Regions from separate parts of the Homo sapiens genome. Here regions 2 and 3 are each linked to region 1. Evidence: fine-mapped expression QTL. A gene starts in region 1. Each other region holds a variant in brackets. All regions are shown on one strand. Distances are from middle to middle.

Region 1 (8,148 bases):
TTTACCACGAGAGAAGAAAAATTTTAGGAAGAAATAGCTTAAATTACCTAAATCTTCATTTATCATAAGACAAGAGAATATACAATGCTAAAAATTGATAAAAGGCTGGGTGTGGTGGCTCATTCATGTAATCCCAGCACTTTGGGAGGCCGAGGCAGGAGGATTGCTTGAGCCCAGGAATTCAAGACCAGCTTGGGCAACATGGCAAAAACCCGTCTCTACAAAAATTACAAAAATTAGTTGGGCATGGTGGCGGATACCTGTAGCCCCAGCTACTCAGGTGGCTGAGGTGGGAGGATCACTTGAGCCCAGGAGTTCAAGGTTGCAGTGAGCTGTGATCAGGTCACTGCACTCCAGCCTGGGTGATAGGGCGAAACTTGTCGTCTCAAGGAAAAAAAATGAGCCAGGCTCAGTGGCTCAAGCCTGTAATCCCAACACTTTGGGAGGCCAAGGCAGGTGGATCACCTGAGCTCAGGAGTTGGAGACCAGCCTGGCTAACAAGGTGAAACCCCATCTCTACTAAAAGTACAAAAATTAGCTAGGCATGGTGGCAGGTGCCTGTAATCCCAGCTACGTGGGAGGCTGAGGCAGGAGAATCACTTGAACCCAGGAGGCGCAGGTTGCAGTGAGTCGAGATTGTGCCATTGGACTCCAGCCTGGGTGACAAGAGCAAAACTCCATCTCAAAAAAAAAAAAAAAAGAAATGATAAAAAAATTAGTGAAGTAGACATTTTATTAATTTGTAAACAAGGAGGCAATCATTAGAAGAAACAAAAACAACATTAAAAGTGATTGCTTATGGGAGTGAAACTAGAAATGGAATAGGAAACAACTACTTCTCATTATAAGCCCTTCTGTACTATCTGATTTTTTCAACATATGTAGGCATTACAATACTTCAATAAAATTAAAACCTATTTAGGTGTGAATAAAGACCTTTAGGTTGGAACCAAGTTTTATCAAGGCAAAATTAGTTAAGTTTTATCAAGGGGACATTTATTTCCAGCCCCTTTCCATGCCCTCTTCATAGCCTTCTCTCAATATTAGTTTTCTCCCAATATCAAAGGGATTCATTGTTCTCCTGCCTCTGGCTTTCTCCCACCTTCACTTAGGAATATTGCTTCTCCAGTTATTTTCTGCTCAACTTTTTTTTTTTGAGAGGAGTCTTGCCCTGTTGCCCAGGCTGGAGTACAGTGGCACAATCTCAGCTCACTGCGACCTCCTCCTCCTGGGTTTTAGTGATTCTCCTGCCTCAGCCTCCTGAGTAGCTGGGACTACAGACACCTGCCACCATGCCCAGCTAATGTTTGTATTTTTTGTAGACATGGGTTTCACCATGTTGGCCAGGCTTGTCTCAAACTCCTGACCTCAAGTGATTCACCCACCTGGGCCTCCCAAATTTCTGGGTTTACTAGGATTACAGGTGTGAGCCACTGTGTCCAGCCTATTCCCTTTTATTTTCATTTCCCAGTCCCCTTCTCTGCTAATCCTGAAATTTTCTTTTTTTTTTTTGAGATGGAGTTTCGCTCTGTTGCCCAGGCTGATCTTGGCTCACTGCAACCTCTGCCTCCTGGGATTTCAAGCAATTCTCCTGTCTCAGCCTCCTGAGTAGCTGGGATTACAGGCTCATGCCACCATGCCTGGTTAATTTTTGTATTTTTAGTAGAGACGGGGTTTCACTATGTTGGTCACACTGTTCTCGAACTCCTGATCTCGTGATTCGCTCACCTTGGCCTCCCAAAGAGCTGGGATTACAGGCATGAGCCACCGCGCCCGGCAAAAAAACTTTTTTTTAGAAAAATAATTAACTCAAAGGAATTAATCTATGTTAACACACTGTCAGGTGCTGATATATATATAGATTGGGGAAGATTTCGTGGCAGTGTGTGAAGTCTTCCAAAGCAGTTCAAATTGTATCACTTCATTCTTTTTTTTTTTTTTTTTTCAGACAGAGTTTTGCTCTTGTGGCCCAGGCTGGAGTGCAATGGCGTGATCTTGGCTCACCACAACTTCCGCCTCCGGGGTTCAAGCGATTCTCCTGCCTCAGCCTCCTGAGTAGCTGGGATTACAGGTATGCACTACCACTCCCAGCTAATTTTGTATTTTTATTAGAGATGGCGTTTCTCCATGTTGGTCAGGCTGGTCTCGAACTCCCAGCCTCAGGTGATCCGCCTGCCTTAGCTTCCCAAAGTGCTGGGATTACAGGCGTGAGCCACTGCGCCCGGCTTCATTGTTATTATGTAATGATTCAGCAGTTATTATCAACTGGGGTTGGAATCAGGATGGACCTTAAATAGTTGTTGAGATATTAATGTTTTTATTACAAGTTCTTGTTAACTTGATTTAAACAGGATTTAGCACATCCCAAGCATGTAGGTGGGTAATAAATATGACTTGTGCAATTATGAGGATGACATAAAACTACTATATACTTAAGGTAAGGATTGTTGACTTATTGACCACACACCCTTAATTTACATTCTTACAACACAAACGAAACTCATCAAATTATTTTGACAGTTTTATATGCTTAATCAACATGTTGGATATGGGATAAACAAACACGTAGCCTACAATTAACTGTCAACAATTGTTATTCCCATTATTATTAACTGATGTCCACCAATAACATTATATAACCCATACGACTTCTACTTCCAAGAAGTGCAGCATATTTCTTGTATTTTATTTATTCAATAAAAAAATTTTCCATGATAAAAAACATTACTGGCATTAACACTTAATCAAGAAGTTCATTACTTAATGCAAACAATGATTTTTTGGGGATTGAAAATAATTGTGCACTTTTCTGTAGATTAGGGTACAGTTTGCAATTATATTTTGCAATTTTCTTCCCAAAGGTAGGAAAGTTTAATAAAAACACAATGAAAACTACTGAATTAAAAATCACTAAAGGCAGGCTGGACTCAGTGGCTCACACCTGTAATCCCAGCACTTTGGGAGGCCAAGGCAGGTGGATCATTTGAGGTTAGGAGTTTCAGACAAGCCTGGCCAACGTGGTGAAACCCAGTCTCTACTAAAAAACCAACCAAACAAACAAACTAAAAAAGCTGTACGTTGTGGTGCATGCCTGTAATCTCAGCTACTGGGGAGGCTGAGGCAGGAGAATCGCTTGAACCTGGGTGAGGAGCCTGCAGTGAGCCGAGATGGCGCTACTGCACTCCAGCCTGGGCGACAGAGTGAGATTCCATTTCAAACAAACAAACCAAAAATCATTAAAGGCAGAAAATAGGTTCTATTGCCCCCCACACCCCATTCTATTTCTTCTGTGCTTCTAAATAGAGTCTAGACTTTACCATCATATCATTTTATCGAACTCACATATTTTGTTTTTGCTAATTAGTCTACAAGAGGCCTACTTTTATCTTTAACTTTTAAAAAACATTCACGGGCCAGGCGCCGTGGCTCACGCCTGTAATCCCAGCACTTTGGGAGGCCGAGGCAGGGGGATCACCTGAGGCCAGGAGTTGGAGACCAGCCTGGCCAACATGGCGAAAACCCGTCTCTACTAAACATACAAAAAAAAATTAGCGGGGCGTGCTGGTGAACGCCTGTAATCCCAGCTACTCAGGAGGCGGAGGCGGAAGAATTGCTTGAACCAGAGAGGCAGAGGTTGCAGTGAGCTGAGATTGAACCATTGCACTCTAGCCTAAGCAACAGAGCGAGACTCTGTCTCAAAATAATAATAATAATAATTCACTTTTGGAAACTGTTCCCTACTAGATTTCAAACAACTTGGGAATGAAATCCTATTTGAGTTCATCCATGTGTATTTCCAACAAGTTCAGTGTCTTACTTATAAATAGTACTTGAAGGAATGAATACAACTTTTTCTTTATGTAGTTATTTTACACTTGATTTAAAGGAACTTTAAAAAGACGCAGTTATACCTAGAGACAGACGCCCTCCAAAAATTGTCTCACCTTCATTATTTGTGATTACTAGTTAGAGCTAGCAGAAAAAACTCCCCAGCAAGTGAAATGTCAAACCACTACTAAAAGAAAGAAAAAGAAAGGAACAGTCTTTTCTATATTTAAGTCACTTGAGAGAAAAAAGAAGAGCTGGTATTTTTCGAGTAATAATGTTCGTATTTTGTGATGCAGATACTCAATTTTACATTCTAAAAATACTACTTTTATAGTAGGAAGCAGTGTACGTTTGAATCCTGGCTCTGCCGCTTGTTGCAAGAAGTTGGTCAAGCTATCGGACCTTGCTAAGCCTTCCCTGTTGTAACTGTAAAATGTAGTAACACCATTTACCTCTAGAATGGCTGTAAATCGAGTAAGGCTTATTTAATACAGCGTCTGGCATACACCAGGCATTCAGTATGGCGCCAGTCATTAACAATAGGTGGTTACTAACTGCGATTCACTCAAAACAATACAGATGCACACGGATGAGAGTTCACACTTTGAGTCTTATTCAAAGATTGGTTATTAGCCAGGCATTTTGATAGGTGCACTCAGTTTTATTTTCGTACCTCACGGTGTATAATTACGCAAGCTCAAAAGCTAATAATTGACAGCTCACTTTGCTTTACTCTGGGTTCTGCATTGACCTCAGAGAAGACACGGCCTAGACAAACAGGCAAGGCCCAACACTGACTCAAAAAAGATCCTTTATTTAACGCAGTGTTTTTAGTGCATGCTCTCGTTTGGCGAAAGAGAAGGTTTTACGTTCAGAATATTAAAAGGGACCCCGAGGACAAAGCAGGATCTCGGAAAATAAGATCACATCCCCAAACAACTAAAAGGACAACCGAGACAAGGTTGCAGACTCCCACGCCTCTGCCCGACTCCCGGGCTTGCGCGCGCGGCTGCAGCGCGACAGGGGCGGGGCCACGGCCACAAAGCAGCCCCCGAGACCACGTGGCCTCCGAGCAGCTCAGGGCGCCCTTGAAAGTTCTTGGATCTGCGGGTTATGGCCGGTCCCTTGCAGGGCGGTGGGGCCCGGGCCCTGGACCTACTCCGGGGCCTGCCGCGTGTGAGCCTGGCCAACTTAAAGCCGAATCCCGGCTCCAAGAAACCGGTAAATGGGTGGTGGCGGTGCGGGGAAGCGCTGGGGACCCGGGCGATGAAAGCGGCCCTTCTCTCCCTGTCATTAGGAGAACTGCCCTTTCTAGGAGAGTGTTGGGATGAAAATAGGATTGCCTCATGCCTGTTCTCCCTTACTGCCCAGAGGGGAATCTTTCCACGTGCACCCAGTTCTTTTTTTTTTTTTTTTTTTTTTTTCCGAGACGGAGGCTTGCTCTGTCGCCCAGAAGCAATTCTCCTGCCTCAGCCTCCCGATTAGCTGGGATTACAGGCGCCCGCCATCACGCCCGGCTAATTTTTGTATTTTTAGTAGAGACGTGGTTTCACCGTGTTGGCCAGGCTGGTTTTGAACTCCTGAGCTCGCGATCCGCCTGCCTCGGCCTCCCAAAGTGCTGGGATTACAGGCGTGAGCCACCGCCCCCGGCCGCACCCAGTTCTTAATAAGGTTATGTTTACAAGTGTAAAGATACCAGGCGGAGAAGCCGACTCGCTGAAACTACAAAGTCTTTGTGTCATTCAAAATTGGATTTAAAATGAAATGTTTTCCCGGTGTATCTTTATGTTCATTGGAAAGATCTGAATTGCAGCTGTCCCTTCTGCAGTTGACTAAATAGAGCTAGAAAAGCTGTTAGTTGACAATGTACTGTCATTTTAACAGTCAGTTCATTGCTTTCGTGAAATGACAGGAAATTAAGGAAAAGATTTTCTTCAACAGATCAGTTTTCAAATAAAATTACAGGTTTATGAATAACATTTGCATATTTACAATTAATTTCAGAATAAATTCTTGCCTATCATTTAAAATGTTGTGAATATTTAATTCTAGGATTTTTTTCGGTTTCAACCTATTATAAAAACCTTATCCCCATCCTAACCTTTACTTTTTGCTTTTGAAACACACTTGGACTTTGGTTACAAGAATTAGCTATGTCTTTAGAGGCAAAGATGCTAACAGAGTGTGTGGAGCTTTGAGCAACTAGGACATGCTTGACACAATAGTGTTAGCTAGCACTGGTGGGCTGGATGAATGAACAGCATAACAAAAAGTGAAGAGCTGAAATGCAGTTTTTAGAAATGCATCTGAAATTCATAAAATTCTTTTTTTTCCTTGCAGGAGAGAAGACCAAGAGGTCGGAGAAGAGGTAGAAAATGTGGCAGAGGCCATAAAGGAGAAAGGCAAAGAGGAACCCGGCCCCGCTTGGGCTTTGAGGGAGGCCAGACTCCATTTTACATCCGAATCCCAAAATACGGGTTTAACGAAGGACATAGGTAAGGTTGCTTTGCTTTTTAAAGTACAGGTCCCCAATTTCCATTAAAAAGCACCTAAAAATAGTTTGGTAGAAATTTTGGTGGAAATTGTAAATTCACTTTGAAGCAAACTTTTGCTACTGTTCCCCTGAACCATTTTTTGGTAATGAAATCTTGCCTGGATTATTAAAAGGAAAAGAGGCCCAGACACTGCACTTAGACCTGCAAAATGGAGATTCTAATGCCAGCTCTAATGGTTATTAAAAGAGTGAGCAATAATAGACAGTATACATAAAAATCTGGCCCACTGTAGTCACCTAATAAATGATAACTACCATTATTACTTTGAGCTCCATAGTAAGTTAAATTTTCCACAGATTTATTTGTGTAAATAAGTGAAGTAAATGCTTAGAGAGGGAAATAATTTTTAGTGGAACAAAGGTGGTACAGGTTTGTTTTCATTACCCAAAATCAAGCAGTATTACATGTTTGTGTTACACTCAAGAGGGTTTTGTTTAGTTAAATAAAATTGGTGGAGGAAAACACAAGACAAAGCTTTGAGTTGATTTCGAGAAGTTACAGGAAGATGAGAGTTTTCCAACTCTTACATTCTTGTTTTACAGTTTCAGACGCCAGTATAAGCCTTTGAGTCTCAATAGACTGCAGTATCTTATTGATTTGGGTCGTGTTGATCCTAGTCAACCTATTGACTTAACCCAGCTTGTCAATGGGAGAGGTGTGACCATCCAGCCACTTAAAAGGGATTATGGTGTCCAGCTGGTTGAGGAGGTAAGTCTTGATTAGATCTTTTGGTGTTATATAGGAGGATTTTTTTTTTAGACAGAGTCTTGCCCTGTTGCCTGAGCTGGAGTACAGTGGCGCAATCTCGGCTCCTGCAACCTCCACCTCACAAGTTCAAGTGATTCTCCTGCCTCAGCCTCCTGAATAGCTGGGATTACAGGCACCCACCACCATGCCCAGCTAATTTTATTTGTTTTTAGTAGAGACAGGGTTTCACTATGTTGGCCAGGCTGATCTTGAACTCCTGACCTTAAGTGATCTGCTCACCTCGGCCTCCCAAAGTGCTGGAATTACAGGTGTGAGCCACCATGCCTGGCCCGTAGGAGATATTTTTGATTTCCAGATAATCAGTACTCTACCCCCTTTATTTTTAGCCCATTTGTGTTTATAACTGTTATGTAGTGGTGATAGCTGTGGTTTTGGAAAGCTGTCATACTATCATGGCAGGGCTCTGTCCCTTGGTCCTGGAATGCTGCTCTTCTGCATATCTGTAAAGCTTGCCTTCTTTTTTTTTTGTTTTTGTTTTTGAGATGGAGTCTCGCTCTGTTGCCCAGGCTGGAGTGCAGTGGCACGATCTCGGCTCACTGCAACCTCTGCCTCCTGGGTTCAAGAAATTCTCCTGCCTCAGCCTCCTGAGTAGCTGGGACTATAGTCGTGCGCCACCACACCCGGCTAATTTTTTATATTTTTAGTAGAGATGGAGTTTCGCCATATTGGCCAAGCTGGTCTTGAACACCTGACCTCGTGATCCACCCACCTTGGCCTCCCAAAGTGCTGGGATTACAGGCGTGAGCCACCGCCCACGGCGCCCCCTTCTTTTGGTTCTCTGCTTGAATGTCAACATATCAGGAAGATCTTTTTTTTTTTTTTTTTTTTTTTTTTTTAAATAGAGATGGAGTCTCACTCTGTCTCCCAGGCTGGAGTACAATGGCGCGATCTCAGCTCACTGCCAACCTCTGCTGCCCAGGTTCAAGCTATTCTCGTGCCTCAGCCTCCTGAGTAGGTGGGACTACAGGTGCGTGCCACCACGTCTGGCTAATTTTTT
Region 2 (8,188 bases), 64 kb before region 1:
AGACGGGGTTTCACCATGTTAGCCAGGATGGTCTTGATCTCCTGACCTCGTGATCCGCTCGCCTCGGCCTCCCAAAGTGCTGGGAATACAGGCGTGAGCCATCACACCCGGCCTAAAAATATCTTTAAAATGTGGGCCCTCAATACTATTAAAACAACACCATGAATCTAAAAAGAACCCAGCAGCTGTTAAGTTTTACCTAGGGATAAGGATGATTTCTCAGATTTCTGAACAGCAGTGTGTGCCCCTTCAGATATTTCCACAGGGCTTCACAACTTCCAAACTATAGATATATTTTTAAAATGTCTTTATACAATGTGTTTATAAAGTAGGCAAGAGAAATAATTAACATTTTACACAAAGAAAAAAAGCCTTGGCCGGGTGCAGTGGCTCACGCCTGTAATCCTAGCACTTTGGGAGGGTGAGGCAGGAAGATCACCTGAGGTCAGGAGTTCAAGACAAGCCTGCCCAACATAGTGAAACCCCATCTCTACTAAAAATACAAAAATTAGCCAGGCATGGTGGTGTGCACCTGTAGTCCCAGCTACTCAGGAGGCTGAGGCAGGAGAATTGCTTGAACCCAGGAGGTGGAGGCTGCAGTGAGCCGAGATCACGCCACTGCACTCCAGCCTGGGCAACAGAGCGAGACTCCATCTCAAAAAAAAAGAAAAGAAAAAAAAGAAAAAGAAAAAAGCCTCAGATAAATAAACTAAATCAGTTGTCTAACATCTCTACATGCTTACTACACTATTTAAAAACAGTAACTTTCACCTGGGCACAGTGGCTCATGCTTACAAGCACTTTGGGAGACTGAAGCATGCGGATCACTTGAGTCCAGAGTTCGAGACCAGCCTGGCCAACATGGTGAAACCCTGTCTCTACTAAAAATACAAAAACTAGCTGGGCGTTTTTGTGCATTGCCTGTAATCCCAGCTACTCAGGAGGCTGAGGCAGGAGAATCGCTTGAACCAGGAGGCAGAGGTTGCAGTGAGCCAAGACTAGACCACTGCACCCCAGCCTGGGCAACAGAGTGAGACTCCATCTCAAAATAAATAAATAAGTGAGTAAATAAAATAAAAACAGCAACTTTCGCTGAGCATGGTGGCTCATGTCTATAATCCCAGCACTTTGAGAGGCTGAGGTAGGAGGACAGCTTGAGACCAGGAGTTTAAGACCAGCCTAAACAATATAGTAAGACCCACTCTACAGAAAACTTAAGAAAAAAAAATTTTTTAATCCAGCAACTTTAATATTTCTTCATGCGTACATGTTCACATACATACACGTTCAAAGCAGAACATGGAATAATTGAAAAATTATAAATAATCAAATCCTTCTAGCCAGGAATAAACAGTTAATTTTCTGATGCATTTCCTTCTGATTTTTCCCATGCATGTCAATTAAGGAATAGATGCACATTTTACAAAACAGGGATCATGTTATACATATAGTTTCCTGCTTATTTACATTTGGCCATATACTTGATGCTTTTTACATATTATCTCTACTAAAGAATAAAGTACCAGTAATTTCAGCCTTTCTTACATCAAAGAGTCTTGATGAATGTTAATTTTTTTTTTTTTTTTTTTTGAGACAGAGTCTTGCTCTGTTGCCCAGGCTGGAGTGCAGTGGCGCGATCTCGGCTCACTGCAAGCCCCACCTCCCGGGCTCACACCATTCTCCTGCCTCAGCCTCCCGAGTAGGCGCCCGCCACCACACCAGCTAAATTTTTTTTTTGTATTTTTAGTAGAGACGGGGTTTTACTGTGTTAGCCAGGATGGTCTTGATCTCCTGACCTCATGATCCGTCTGCCTCAGCCTCCCAAAGTGCTGGAATTACAGGCGTGAGCCACCATGCCCAGCCCCCTGTTAAATACTTTTCTATTAACTATTTTTCTATTTCAACCCACTTCCCCCAAAGTGTTAAAGACATATAAAAAGATTAGTAACAACAGTATTAACTGCAATACTTACATAACATTAACTATAACCAGGATATTATATAGGAGTTTTGTGTATATGCACATGTGTATATGTGTAAATAGCTATGTTAAAGACTTTTTTCTGAAAACTATAAAACATATTAAGAAATACAAGAAAATCTATATAAATGGAAGGATATCCCACTTTCATGGACTGGGAGATATAATATTTTAAAGACGGCAGTACTCTCAAATTGATCTATGGAGTCAATGCAATCTTTAACAGAATACCACCTGACTTTGCACATATTAGAACCCGATCTAAAATTTGTATGGAAACTCAAGAGACCCAGAATAACAACAACAACAAAAATCTTGAAAAAGAACAAAATTAGAGGACTCACACTTCTTAATCTCAAAAATTCCTACCAAGTAACATTCAGAAAGACTAGTACTAGAGTACAGACAGACATATAAATCAACCGAAAATCCAGAAATAAAACCTCACATTTACTGTCAAACTTATTTCTGAAACAAATCAACAGGGAAGGAATAGTCTTTTTAACAAAAGTAGCTGGGACAAGTGGATATCCACATGTAATACAAAGAAGTTGGACTGCTACCTCATACCATATGTAAACACTGACCAAATACCTAAATGTAAGAGATAAAACTATAAAACTAGAAGAAAACACACATACATCTTTGTGACCTCAGATCTGGCAATTTCTTAGATATAACATCAAAAGCACAACCGACAAGAAAAAAATAGATAAATTAGAAATCATCAAAATTAACTGTTGTGTTTCAAAGGACACTATGAAGAAAATGAAAAGACAACTTACATAGTGGGAAAAATGTTTGCAAATCACATCTAATTAAAGTGTCTAGTATCCATAATAAAAAAAACTTGCAACTCACAAACAAAAAGACAACCCAATTAAAAAATATGCAAAAGACTTGATGAGATGTTTGTCCAAAGAAGATATACAAATGGCCAAAAAGCACAGGAAAAGATGCTGAACATCATTAGTCATTAAGGAAACATAAATCAAAGCCCCAATGATACATCACTTCATACTCACTAGGATGGCTATCAATATAATGATGAAAGGAATAAATTCTGGTGTTCTGTAGCACTGTTGAGTGAATATGGTTAACTACAATTCAGTGTATATTTTCAAAATGCTAGAAGAAAGGGTGTTGAATGTTCACAATGCAAAGAAACGATAAATGTTTGAGGTGATGGATATGCTAATTACCCTGATTTGATTCTTACATGTTGTATACATGTATCAAAATATATCACTCAGTATCCCATAAATATGAACAATTATGTATCAACTAAAAGTAAAAGGAAAAGAAAAAATACTTTAAAAAAAACTTTGGCCAG[G/C]CATGGTGGCTCATGCCTGTAATCCCAGCACTTTGGGAGGCCAAGGCGGGCAGATCCCTTGAGTCCAGGAGTTCAAGACCTGCTTGGCCAACATGGTGAAACCCCGTCTCTACTAAATCTATGAAAATTAGCTGGGCGTGGTGCGCACCTGTAGTCCCAGCTACTCAGAAGCTGAGGCTGGAGAATCATTTGAACCTGGGAGGCAGAGATTGCAATGAGCTGAGATTGTGCCACTCCACTCCAGCCTGGGCGACAGAGTGAGACTCTGTCTCGTTTAAAAAAAAAAAAAAGGAATATACTAAATGTCATGAATTGTTCACATTAAAAGGGTTAGTTTTATGTCATGTGAATTTTACCTCGAATTAAACAAAAAAGACATCTCAATAAAAAAATAGGCAAAAGACTTGAATAGACATTTCTCAGACAAATGAATGGTTAATACACCATGAAAAGATGCTCAACATCATTAGTCATTAGAAAATGCAAACCAAAACCACTGTGAGATACCACTTCATACCTACCGGAATGGTTATCGTAAAAATGACAAATAATAGCCAAGTGTTAAAGGGTATGGTGAGAAATCAGAACCCTCATACACTGTTGGTAGAAATGTAAATGGTGCAGCGACTTTAGATAACCTTTAGGTTCTCAAAAGGATAAATATGAAGTTACCATATCCAGCAATTCTATTCCTAGGTCTATACCGAAGAATAGTGAAAAAATATGTCCAGTACAGATGTGGTGGCTCATGCCTGTAAACCCAGCTACTCGGGAGGCTGAGGCAGGAGAATTGCTGGAACCCGGGAGGCGGAAGTTGCGGTGAGCCGAGATCGTGCCACTGCAGTCCAGCCTGGGCAACAAGAGTGAAACTCCATCTCAAAACAAAAACAAAAACACAACAACAAAAAACTTGTACACAAATGTTCTTTTTTAGCAGTATTACGCAACTTCAAGGTGCAAACAACCCAAATGTCCATCAAATGATGGATGAATAAACAAAATGAGGCCAGGCGTGGTGGCTCATACGGTAATCCCAGCACTTTGGGGAGGCCAAGGCTGGCAGATCACCTGAGGTCAGGGGTTCGAGACCAGCCTGGTCAACATGGTGAAACCTGTCTCTACTAAAAATACAAAAATTAGCCAGGCTTGATGGCGCATGCCTGTAGTACCAGCGACTGGGGAGACTGAGGTAGAAGAATCACTCAAACCCGGGAGGAGGAGGTTGCAGTGAGCTGAGATCACACCACTGTACTCCAGCCTGGGCGGCAGAGCGAGACTCCATCTCAAATAAAGAATAAAATAAAATAAAATGAGGCACAGCCATACAACGGAGTATGATTCAACAATGAGAAGGAAGTACTGACATGCTATAGCACGGATGAGCCTTGAAAACAATGTTAAGTGAAAGAAGCCAGTTACAATAGAACACAAATGAAAGAGTATAGGGTTTCTTTTTGAGGCAATGAAAATGTTCTAAAATTGACTGTGGTGATGGTTGCAAAACTTACGGTGAATACATCTAAAACCATCAAATTACACACTTTAAATGAGTGAATTGTGTGGTATATGAATTATATGTCAATAAAACTGGTACCAAAAATAAAGACGAAGAATGCATGACTGGACCCAGTCATGAGGAACCATTAGACAGACTCAAGTTGAAGAGTCACTCTGCAGAATATGCAGAACTGAAGGCTGTGGCTATATGCTTTAAAACTGCAAAGGAAATGAAAGAAGAACTGATAAACAGTTTCAGACTCAAGACATGACAGCTCAAATGAACACATACTCCTGGAAAGGATCTCAGGCCAGAAAGGAAACGGACACAGCTGAGAAAGCTGGCAAAACTTCAATGGAGTCTGTGGACTGGATATAGTGTTTAATCAATGCTCATCTCCTAATTTGGAGTGTTGTATGTTGGTTATGTACAAGTATCCTTGTGCATGGGAAATACACATGAGAGTATTTAGAGGTGATAGGAACATGTTTGCAGGTTTATCTCAAGAGTTAAAAAAAGACTCATCTATATATACGTACATATATATACAGGGTGGGGGCGTGGACAAGCACACACAGGACTGAGTGCACACACAATGGAACACACGCAGTAAAAGATGAACCAAGGAAGCTCCATGACAGCGATATGAGATTTTTTTGTACAAAAAGCACACATTTTATTTTAAAAGTGTGAGTTACAATTGCCACAAAAAGAATAAAATACCTAGGAATACAGCTAACCAGGGAGGTGAAAGATCTCTACAACAAGAATTACAAAACGCTGCTCAAAGAAATCAGAGATGACACAAACAAGTGGAAATGCATTCCATGCTCATGGATAGGAAGAATCAATACTGTTAAATGGCCATACTGCCCAAAGCAATCTACAGATTCAATGCTATTCCTATCAAACTACCAATGACATTCTTCACGGAATTAGGAAAAAATGTTTTAAAATTCACATGGAACCAAAAAAAGAGCCCAAACAGACAAGGCAATCCTAAGCAAAAAGAACAAAGCTGGAGGCATCATGTTACTGGACTTCAAACTATGCTACAGGGGTACAATAACCAAAACAGCATGGTACTGGTACAAAAACAGACACATAGACCAATCAAACAGAATAGACAGCACAGAAGTAAGGTCACACACCTACAACTATTTGATACTCAACAAAGCTGACAAAAACAAGCAATGGGAAAAAGGACTCCCCAGTCAATAAAAAGTGCCAGGATAACTGGGTGACCATATGCAGATGATAGAAACTGGACCCCCACCTAACACCACATACAAAAATCAACTCAAGATGGATTCAAGACTTAAATGTAAAACCCCTAACTATAAAAACTCGAAAGACAACCTAGGAAATACCATTTTAGACATAGGACTTGTCTAAGATTTCATGGTGAAGACGCCAAAAGCAACTGCAACAAAAACAAAAATTGACAAATGAGATCTAATTAAACTAAGGAGCTATTGCACAGCAAAAGAAACTATCAACAGAGTAAACAAACATCCTGCAGATGGAAGAAAATATATGCAAACTGCGCACCCAACAAAGGTCTAATATCCAGAATCTATAAGGAACTTAAATTTACAAGTAAAAAACAAACCACCTAGCTGTTCTGTGGTGTAGCCATTCTTTTATTCCTTTACTTTCTTAATAAACTTGCTTCCACTTTACTGTTAAAAAAAAAAAAATCAAACAACCCCATTGAAAAGTAGACAAAAAACATGAACAGACACTTTTCAAAAGACAGGCTGGGCGTGGTCGTGGCTCATGCCTGTAATCCCAGCACTTTGGGTAGCGGAGGCGGGCGGATCACTTGAGGTCAGGAGTTCGAGACCAACCTAGCCAACATAGTGAAACCCTACCTCTACTAAAAATACAAAAAATTAGCCAGGCGTGGTGGTGCGTGCCTGTAGTCCCAGCTACTCAGGAGGCTGAGGCAGGAGAATTGCTTGAACACTCCAGCTTGGCGACAGAGCAAGACTGAATCAAAAAAAAAAAAAAAAAAGACATACATGTGGCCAACAAGCATATGAAAACATGCTCAAGATCATTAATGATTAGAGAAATGCAAATCAAAACCACAACAAAATACCATCTCACAGCAGGCAGAATGGCTATCATCAAAAAGTCAAAAAAGGTCGTTAAGGGTTGGGCCATCAGGAACTTGCGCGTCCATCTCAGGGAGACCTGGCCTTCAGAGATGACAGCATTCAGCCCCAGGAGGAGCCTGCAATTCATCCTCGGTCTTCCCAACTTGTGCCGCCCAGGGAGATACAGGACAGTAAGGAACTAAACAGAACCTGCTGTCTGAATGGGGGAACCTGCATGCTGGGGTCCTTCTGTGCCTGCCCCCTCTCCTTCTATGGACGGAACTGTGAGCATGATGTGTGCAAAGAGAACTGTGGGTCTGTGCCCCATGACACCTGGCTGCCCAAGAAGTGTTCCATTTGTAAATGCTGGCACGGCCAGCTCCGCTGCTTTCCTCAGCCATTTATCTACCTGGCTGTGATGGCCTTGTGATGTATGGCATCTCATAGCTTCCAGGACTCCAGAACTACCAGCATCTACACTGCCACTTCTATGCCAGCTGGCATCTGCTTTTCTATACAAAGTTACTATTAATCGACACTGACCTATTTACAGAAGTATAATTTTAGATATCATGCAAATTTCATGACCAGTAAAGGCTGCTGCTACAATGTCCTAACAGAAAGATGACCATTTGTTAGTTGCCTTAAAATAATGAATACATTTCCAAAATAGTCTCTAACATTTCCTTATAGTACCAACTACTTCCTACCTCTTTGCCCTGCCCTCCCCCAAAAAACTACTTCTTTTTTCAAAAGTCAGCCATATCTCCATTGTGCCCAAGTCCAGTGTTTCTTGATACATGTAATTCTACCAAAGTCTTCTTAATATGTTCTTTTAAACAATTGAATTATATCTTCAGATTATTAGAGACTAATCCTAATGTGGACCTTAGGATAGTTTTGAGTAGAGGTGATCAAAATCAATTAAAATAGTCTCTTTAAAAGGAAAGAAAGCAGCCAGGTGTGGTGACTCATGCTTGTAATCCCAGCACTTTGGGGAGGCCGAGGTGGGCGGATCACGAGGTCAGGAGATTGAGACCATCCTGGCTAACATGGTGAAACCCCATCTCTACTAAAAATACAAAAATTAGCTGGGTGTGGTGGCGGGAGCCTGTAGTCCCAGCTACTTGGGAGACTGAGATAGGAGAATGGCGGGAACCCGGGAGGCAGAGCTTGCAGTGAGCCGAGATCGTGCCACTGCACTCCAGCCTGGGCGACAGAGCCTTTAATAGTCATAGATTAAAAAGACTGTTTCTTTACCATCCCCTTAGCTG
Region 3 (8,188 bases), 21 kb after region 1:
TTTTTTGTATTTTTAGTGGAGACAGGGTTTCATGGTGCTAGCCAGGATGTTTTCTTGATCTCCTGACCTTGTGATCCGCTTGCCTCGGCCTCCCAAAGTGCTGGGATTACAGGCATGAGCCACCGCACCCAGCCTCCTTTACTTTCTTAATAAACTTGCTTTCACTTTATGGATTGACTCACCCCAAATTCTTTCTTGCCCAAGATTCAAGAACCTCTTGGGGTCTGGATCGGGACCCCTTTCCCGTAACAATGACAAAGCACAGGAAACCATCTGAGAAGAAGCATTCACTTTGTTCTATGCCTGCTTTTAATAAACATTTTTAATAATAAAGCCATCTTCCTATGTTAAATATTTTACAAAGTGTCTTTTTTTTTTTTTTTTTTTTTGAGACGGAGTCTCGCTCTGTCGCCCAGGCTGGAGTGCAGTGGCGCAATCTCAGCTCACTGCAAGCTCCACCTCCCCAGGTTCATGCCATTCTCCTGCCTCAGCCTCCCGAGTAGCTGGGACTATAGGCGCCCGCCACCACGCCCGGCTAATTTTTGTTTGTTTGTTTGTTTTGTTTTTGTATTTTTAGTAGAGACGGGGTATCACCATGTTAGCCAGGATAGTCTCGATTTCCTGACCTCGTGATCCGCCCGCCTCAGCCTCCCAAAGTGCTGGGATTACAGGCGTGAGCCACCATGCCCGGCCTTAAATATTTCAAAAGTCCTATTTGCATATAACATAGGGAGGAAAAGAGAGGATAAGATACAAAGAAGGTTGCTAAGAAAAGCGCCAAGGTACAAAGAATGTGTTTTTGGCCAGGCGTGGTGGCTCACGCCTGTAATCCCAGCACTTTGGAAGGCAGAGGTGGGCGGATCACCTCTGAGGTCAGGGGTTCGAGACCAGCCTGGCCAACATGGTGAAACACCCGTCTCTACTAAAAATACAAAAATTAGCCGGGTGTGGTGGTGCGTGCCTATAATCCCAGCTACTTTGGGAGGTTGAGGTGGGAGAGTCACTTGAACTTGGGAGATGGAGGTTGCAGTGAGCTGAAATTAAAAAAAAAAAAGAAGAATTCTTAGAGTACAGTGAGATGAAGATAAAAACATAGTGAGATGCCAGGAACTCTGTGTTTGTTAAGGGGAGGGCTAACCTTCTCTCCTTTCATACAACACATTTTCTGAATATTCATTATTGGGGTATTTAAATTGCGCTCTCTTATTCTTAAGCCATTTAAAATGGAATCTATTAGACAAATCACTTCATCTTTTAGACTGTAAAATACAATGACAAGCTTTGTAAAATATGAGGACTGTGTAAAATGACCTCTAAAGTCTGTTGTAATACACTGATGATAAAGATGTTCCCTTGGGCTGAGGAAAACTTCTCTGACCTCAACCTATTTGCATAGAAATGAACTTCCTTAAATTTAAACACATCCTGTGTTCTGTATTCATGTAAGAGGTTCCATTTTTTTCATATCAGAGTGTACTGGCTTTGCTTTAGGTAAGTTACTGCCTTGCCTTATTTGTGCCACAGGAGGTTTTCCATTTGTGATTCAGTTCACAATTGTATGTTTGGAGGGGCTGGTACTGCCTCAACAGGAAAAGTTCTTAATGGGGAACAAGGGAGGAAGTTAGTCACCTAAAGATAGACTGCACAGGCAACAGCCTTCCAGGCTCAGAGTGACCCTTGGGTTCCCTCCCCCATCCTCCAAGTAGAATGACTACACTACCCTAACAACAGTTACGGAAGGGAAAAGAGACAGTCAAACATTAGACTTACTTCACTGTGGTTGTCTTAGGTGGCCTACAGGTGAAAGGAAATTGGGAAAGAATGATAAAGGAAAGAAAGAAAACAGGAAACAGATGTCTGGTGATGAATAATGCTCAGATAGTACTTACTCAGTGAGCATGGGCTTAGTCACAAACAGCTGTATCCTGGTCTCAATATTAGAATCGTGCAGATAAGTTCTCAGCCAAAACAGGCACGTTCCACAAAATCTGTCTATTCTGTTTAATAAAGTTAATCCTCAAATTGCTGTATAGCCGGGAGACTCAAGTTCATTGTAACTACGCAGCAATACTGGGCTCTATGATGCTGATATACCATGGCCCTTCAGCCGTGTACAAGGATAATGGGGCAGAGAGTGTGCTAGCAGATGGTATTGTTATCTTGTTAAGGGTTCATATTACTTGGAAATCTAAGAATAAAAGTAAGAATGCTTCAGTCTAGATTTTAGTCCTCTCGTGGTATGTGGCTTCCAGTATATGTGGCTAGTTTGCATCCAATCCATTGAGTTAATATGGATTTTAAAATATTTTTTTAACTCCTTAGAGAAATAATTGCTAGGGATTTCCTGTCTATTGAGTTCCCGGGTTTTCTTTTTTAAAAATGCTACTCTCTGTTCTTTGACAATGAGAGTGGCTCTACCATAGCCGGGGAAGATGTCAGATAACAGCAGTGTAACCCAATTTAGTTCGTGTCAGAGAAAAAAGTGCGCTCTCTGATGTTCGCACAGATCCCAGAATGGCTGCATTTTGATGCTTTACTGAAAAGACATAGCATGGTTGAAGTAGCACAGCTTCCATGTCACCAAACCTGGATTTGAATCCAGGCTCTGACAGCAGCTGTGTGACCTCGGGCACATCACATAACTGCTGTGCTCTCATCTGTCTCACATGTGAAATGGAGATAATCATACCCACCTCTGTGCTTCTGTGTTTGGGAGACCCAGTGAGGTTATTTGCGGGGAGACACGAAGCTCAGCCAGTTTGCAGAGCCACCTGGAGCAGTTTACTTGGGCTCAGATGCCAAGACTAGCTGTGTGACCTTGATATGTTACTTAATATCTCTGCCTCAGTCTCACCATCTGAAAAATGGGGGATGATTAATCCTAATGCATATGGGTATGAAGATTGAAAGAAGTCAATATTTGTAAAGCACTTACCATAATGCCTGACACATAAGTGCCTCTGTAAGTGTTCATAAATCAAGTTTTTTTTTTTGAGACAGAGTCTCGCTCTGTCGCCAGGCTGGAGTGCAGTGGTGTGATCTCAGCTCACTGCAAGCTCCGCCTCCTGGATTCAAGTGATTATCCTGCCTCAGCCTCCTGAGTAGCTGGGATTATAGGCACCTGCCACCACACCCGTCTAATTTTATATTTTTAGTAGAGACAGGGTTTCACCATTTTGGTCAGGCTGGTCTTGAACTCCTGACCTTACATGATCCACCTGCCTCAGCCTCCCAAAGTGCTGGCATTATGGGCGTGAGCCACCATGCTCGACCTCACTTGGCATAATGTTTTGAAAGTTATCCATGTGGTGGCATGTTCCAGTACCTCATTCTTTTTTATGGCCAACTAGCTTTCCATCGTGTGGAGTGTGTATGCATTCATCAGTTGGTGGACATGTGGATTGTTTCCATGGTGGGGCTATTATAAATAATGCTACTGTAAACATATGTTTGCAAGTCTTTATGTGAACATGTTTTTCTTTTTCTTGGGAATATATTTAGCAGTGGAATTGCTGAGTAGATTAGCAAATTTATGTTTAACTTTTTTTTTTTTTTTTGAGACAGTGTCTCACTGTGTCACCCAGGCTGGAGTGCAGTGGCACCATCTTGGCTCACTGCAACCTCTGCCTCCCGGGTTCAAGCGATTCTCGTGTCTCAGTCTCCTGAGTACCTGGGATTACAGGTGCGCACCTCCATAGCCCACGTAATTTTTTTGTATTTTTAGTAGAAATGGGGTTTCACTAT[G/A]TTGCCTAGGCTGGTCTCGAACACCTGGCCTCAAGTGATCCACCTGCCTCAGCCTCCCAAAGTGCTGGGATTACAGGTGTGAGCCACCATGCCTGGCCCATGTTTGACTTTTAAAGAAACTGCCAAATTGTTTTCCTAAGTGGCTGCACCATGTTACTCCCCCACAAGAAATGAATGTTCCTGTTTCTCACATCCTTGCCAACATTTGTTATTATCTGCATTTTTGATGATAACCATTCTAGTGGGCACGAAATGGTTTCTCATTGTGGGTTTGATTTGCATTTCACTAATAATGATGTGGAACATGTGGAATGAGAATAGCTTCTTGGCCATTTGTATGTAAGAGACTTCATATTCTTCTATGTACTTGAAATTTTATAAAGATAATTCTGATGATTATCGAGCATCCATATATATAGGAGTTTTTAAAAGCTTTATCTGTTCATCTTATTCAATCCTCACCAGACCCTTTTATTTATGCCATTTTATAGTTGAAAAAAATTGAGGCACAGAGAGGTCAAGTATTTAGTATGAGGACATCTAGCTCGAAAGAAGTATTAGGGCTAAGATTTAAACCCAAGTCAACTGGCTCCAGAGACAATGTTCTTTTTTTTTTTTTTTGAGACGAAGTTTCACTCTTGTTGCCCAGGCTGGAGTGCAGTGGCACGATCTCCGCTCACTGCAACCTCTGCCTCCCAGGTTCAAGCGATTCTCCTGCCTCAGCCTCCCAAGTACCTGGGATTACAGGCATGCACCATGCCTGGATAATTTTGTATTTTTAGTGGAGATGGGGGTTTCACCTTGTTGGTCAGGCTGGTCTCGAACTCTTGACCTCAGGTTATCCGCCCGCCTCAGCCTCCCAAAGTGCTGGGATTACAGGTGTGAGTCACTGCACCTGGCCTATGTTCTTGGATACTAGACAAACAGTTGTTATATACACATAGTACATTAAAATGATTTAAATGTTTTTATTATAGTAACATTTACATGACACAAAATGTACAATTTCAACCGTTCGTAAGTGTACATTAAGTCGCTTTAAGTGCATGATATACATTAAGTGCATTCACAAGGTTATGCAACAATCACTGCTATCCATTTCCAGAACTTTTTCATCATTCCAAACCTAAACTCCATTCAATTAAACTGTAACTCTCCATTTTCTCCTGCCCCAGCCCTTTGTAACTATATTATTCTACTTTCTGTCTATGAATTTGTCTATTCTATGTATCTCATATAAGTGGCACCATATGATATTTGTCCTTTTGTGTCTGGCCTGTTTTACCTAGTTCATGTGGTTCATCCATATGACAGCATGTATCAAAATTTCATTCTTAAATTTAAAAAAATTTTAATTGTGGTACAATACATATCACACAAGGCCGGATGTGGTGGTTCATGCCTGTAATCCCAGCACTTTGGGAGGCTGAGGCAGGCAGATTACCTGAGGTCAGGAATTCAAAACCAGCCTGGCCAACATGGCAAAACCCCGTCTCTACTATAAATACAAAAATTAGCTGGGCATGGTGGCGGGCGCCTGTAATCCCAGCTACTTGGGAAGCTGAGGCGGGAAAATCCCTTGAACTTGGGAGGTGGAGGTTGCAGTGAGCCAAGATTGCATCACTGCACTCCAGCCTGAGAGACAGAAGGAGACTCTGTCTCAAAACAAACAAACAAAATCACACAAAAAATATCATCTTAACCATTTTTAAGTGTGCAGTTCAATAGTGTTAAGTATGTTCACACTGTTGTGCAGTAGATATCCAGAACTTTTTCATCTTGCAAGATGGAAACTCTGCAAGATGGAAACTCTATACCCCTTTAAACAAACAACTCCCTATTTCTTTCTTTTTCTTTTTCTTTTTCTTTTTCTTTTTTTTGTTTTTGAGACGGATTCTCGCCCTGTCGCCCAGGCTGGAGTGCAATGGCACGATCTCGGCTCACTGCAACCTCCGCCTCCTGGTGCAAGTGATTCTCTGGTCTCATCCTCCTAGTAGCTGAGATTACAGGCGCCCGCCACCATGCCTGGCTAATTTTTTGTATTTTCAGTAGAGACGGGGTTCTCAACATGTCGGCCAGGCTGGTCTTGAACTCTTGACCTCAGGCGATCCACCTGCCTCAGCCTCCCAAAGTGCTGGGATTACAGGCGTGAGTCACCGCACCCAGCCAACAACTCCCTATTTCTTCCTCCCCTCCCCCAGTCCCTGGCAACCACCATTCATCTTTCCTTTTCAATGAATTTGACTACTTTAGATACCTTATTTAAGTGGAATCAGAAGTATTTGTCCTTCTGTGACTGGCTTATTTCATTTAGCATAATGTCTCATGCTTCATTCATCTTGAGCACCTGTCAGAATTTCCTTCCGTTTTAAGACTGAATAATATTCCATCGTATGTATATACCAGATTCTATTTATTCACTCCTCTGTTGAGGGACATTTGGGTTGTTTCCATCTTTTGGCTGCTGTGGTTGATGTTGCCCTGAACATTGGTTTTCAAGTTTGAGTTCTTGCTTTTTTTTTTTTTGATGGAGTCTCACTCTGTCACCCAGGCTGGAGTGCAGTGGTGCAATCTCGGCTTGCTGCAACCTCCAGCTCCCAGGTTCAAGCGATTCTCCTACCTCAGCCTCCCGAGTAGCTGGGATTACAGGTATGTGCTGCCATGCCCGGCTAATATTTTCTGTGTTTTTCCAGTAGAGATAGGGTTTTACCATGTTGGCCAGGCTGGTCTCGAACTCCTGACCTCAGGTGATCCCCCGACTCGGCCTCCCAAAATGTTGGGATTACAGGCATGAGCCACCGCACCTGGCCATGAATTCTTGCTTTCAATTCTTTTGGGTATATACCTAGGAGTGGAATTGCTGGGTCATATGGTTATTCTATGTTTGAACTGTTTTTTTTTTTTTTTGAGATAGAGTCTCACACTGTTGCCCAGGCTGGAGTGCAAGTGGCTCGATCTCAGCTCACTGCAACCTCTGCCTTCCAAGTTCAAGCAGTTCTCTTGGCTCAGCCTTCAGAGCAGCTGGGATTACAGGTGTGTGCCACCACACCCCGCTAATTTTTATATATTTATTAGAGACAGGGCCTCACTATGTTGGCCAGGCTGATCTCCAACTCCTGACCTCAGATTATCTGCCCTGCTTGGCCTACAAGGCACTGTGCAGATAATTTTCAAATATTTATTTGATTAATCATTCCAAGGCTTGTTTATTGAGTACCTCCTAAGTCCCAAACTCTGGGTCTTCCATGCTGAATAAAATACATGGTCTTTGCCCTCATGCAGTTGATAGTCTAAAAGCAGAGTTGTTCACGCAAATGAATATAAAATTGCAATGAAGATAAGTGCTGGAAATGGTGTTTATGTGGGACACGACTGCATACAAGAAGGTAATCTGATTTAGTAAGTGAAATCAGGGAAGGATTCCTTTAGAAGTGACAAAACAAGGGTTGAGAGTGAGCCCAGTGAGGCGATGAGAGCAATCCTTCTGTGCAAAGGGAGCAGCGTGCATCAGGATGCTGTGCCTGAAGGAAGCATTGCGTTACAGAGATCTCAAAGACCTTTTTGGAACAAAAAAGCAAAGAAAGGCTGTAGGAAACAAGGTAAAAGACATTTCATCTTCACAGAAGTTTTTTAAACCTTGGGGTGAAATTCATATACCATAAAGTTGACAACTGAAAACAATTCAGCAGAATGTCATACATTCTCAGTGTTGTGCAACCACCTCCTCCATCTAGTTCCAAAGCATTTCATCACACCAAAAGGAAACTAATAGCCATTAAGCAGTCTGTATTCATCTCTCCCTGCCTCCAGCCCCTGGGAACTACTAATCTGCTTTCTTTCTCTTTTTTTTTTTTTTTGGAGACGGAGTTTCACTCTTGTCACCCAGGCTGGAGTGCAATGGCGTGATCTCAGCTCGCCGCAACCTCTGCCTCCTGGGTTCAAGCAATTCTCCTGCCTCCTGCCTCAGCCTCCCAAGTAGCTGGGATTACAGGTGCCTGCCACCACGCCCAGCTAATTTTTGTATTATTAGTAAAGATGGGGTTTCACCATGTTGGCCAATTTGGTCTCGAACTCCTGACCTCAGATGATCCACCCGCCTCAGCCTCCCAAAGTGCTAGGATTACAGGCATGAGCCACCACTCCCAGCCTATTAATCTGCTTTCTATCTCTACAGAATTATCTATTTTGGATATGTTATGTAAATGAAATCATACACTATGTGGTCTTTTGTGTCTGGCTTCCTTCACTTAATATATTTTCAAGGTTCATCCAATGTTGTAGCATGAACCAGTACTTCATTCCTTTTGATGGCTAAATAATATTCCATTGCATGTATATATGACAACTGTTTATCCACTCATTTGTTGATGAACATTTGGCCTGTTTCTACCTTTGAGTTATTGTGAATAAAGCTGCTGTGCACATTAGAGTGCAAGAAATGAGT

The links. PIP is the estimated chance that this variant, and not a neighbour inherited with it, causes the effect.
Region 2: its variant is fine-mapped to the expression of MRPL15 in whole blood (INTERVAL, PIP above 0.99).
Region 3: its variant is fine-mapped to the expression of MRPL15 in prefrontal cortex (BrainSeq, PIP 0.95).

What each region holds. Positions count from the first base shown.
Region 1 is chr8:54,130,343-54,138,490 of GRCh38, forward strand. MRPL15 (mitochondrial ribosomal protein L15) reads left to right here and starts at 4,899. Exons shown (of 5, transcript NM_014175.4): 1 at 4,899-5,049; 2 at 6,169-6,323; 3 at 6,926-7,091. The coding sequence starts at 4,942.
Region 2 is chr8:54,066,124-54,074,311 of GRCh38, forward strand. All of the region lies in intron 2 of LYPLA1-TCEA1 (LYPLA1-TCEA1 readthrough), which reads right to left. All of the region lies in intron 2 of LYPLA1 (lysophospholipase 1), which reads right to left. It also overlaps the pseudogene CRIPTOP5. Among named protein-coding and RNA genes, the nearest start is that of LYPLA1, 32 kb to the right of the region's middle. RefSeq lists an enhancer at 5,094-5,193. The variant G/C (reference allele first, on the strand shown) is at 3,315.
Region 3 is chr8:54,151,723-54,159,910 of GRCh38, forward strand. It overlaps the pseudogene RNU6ATAC32P. Among named protein-coding and RNA genes, the nearest start is that of MRPL15, 21 kb to the left of the region's middle. The variant G/A (reference allele first, on the strand shown) is at 3,745.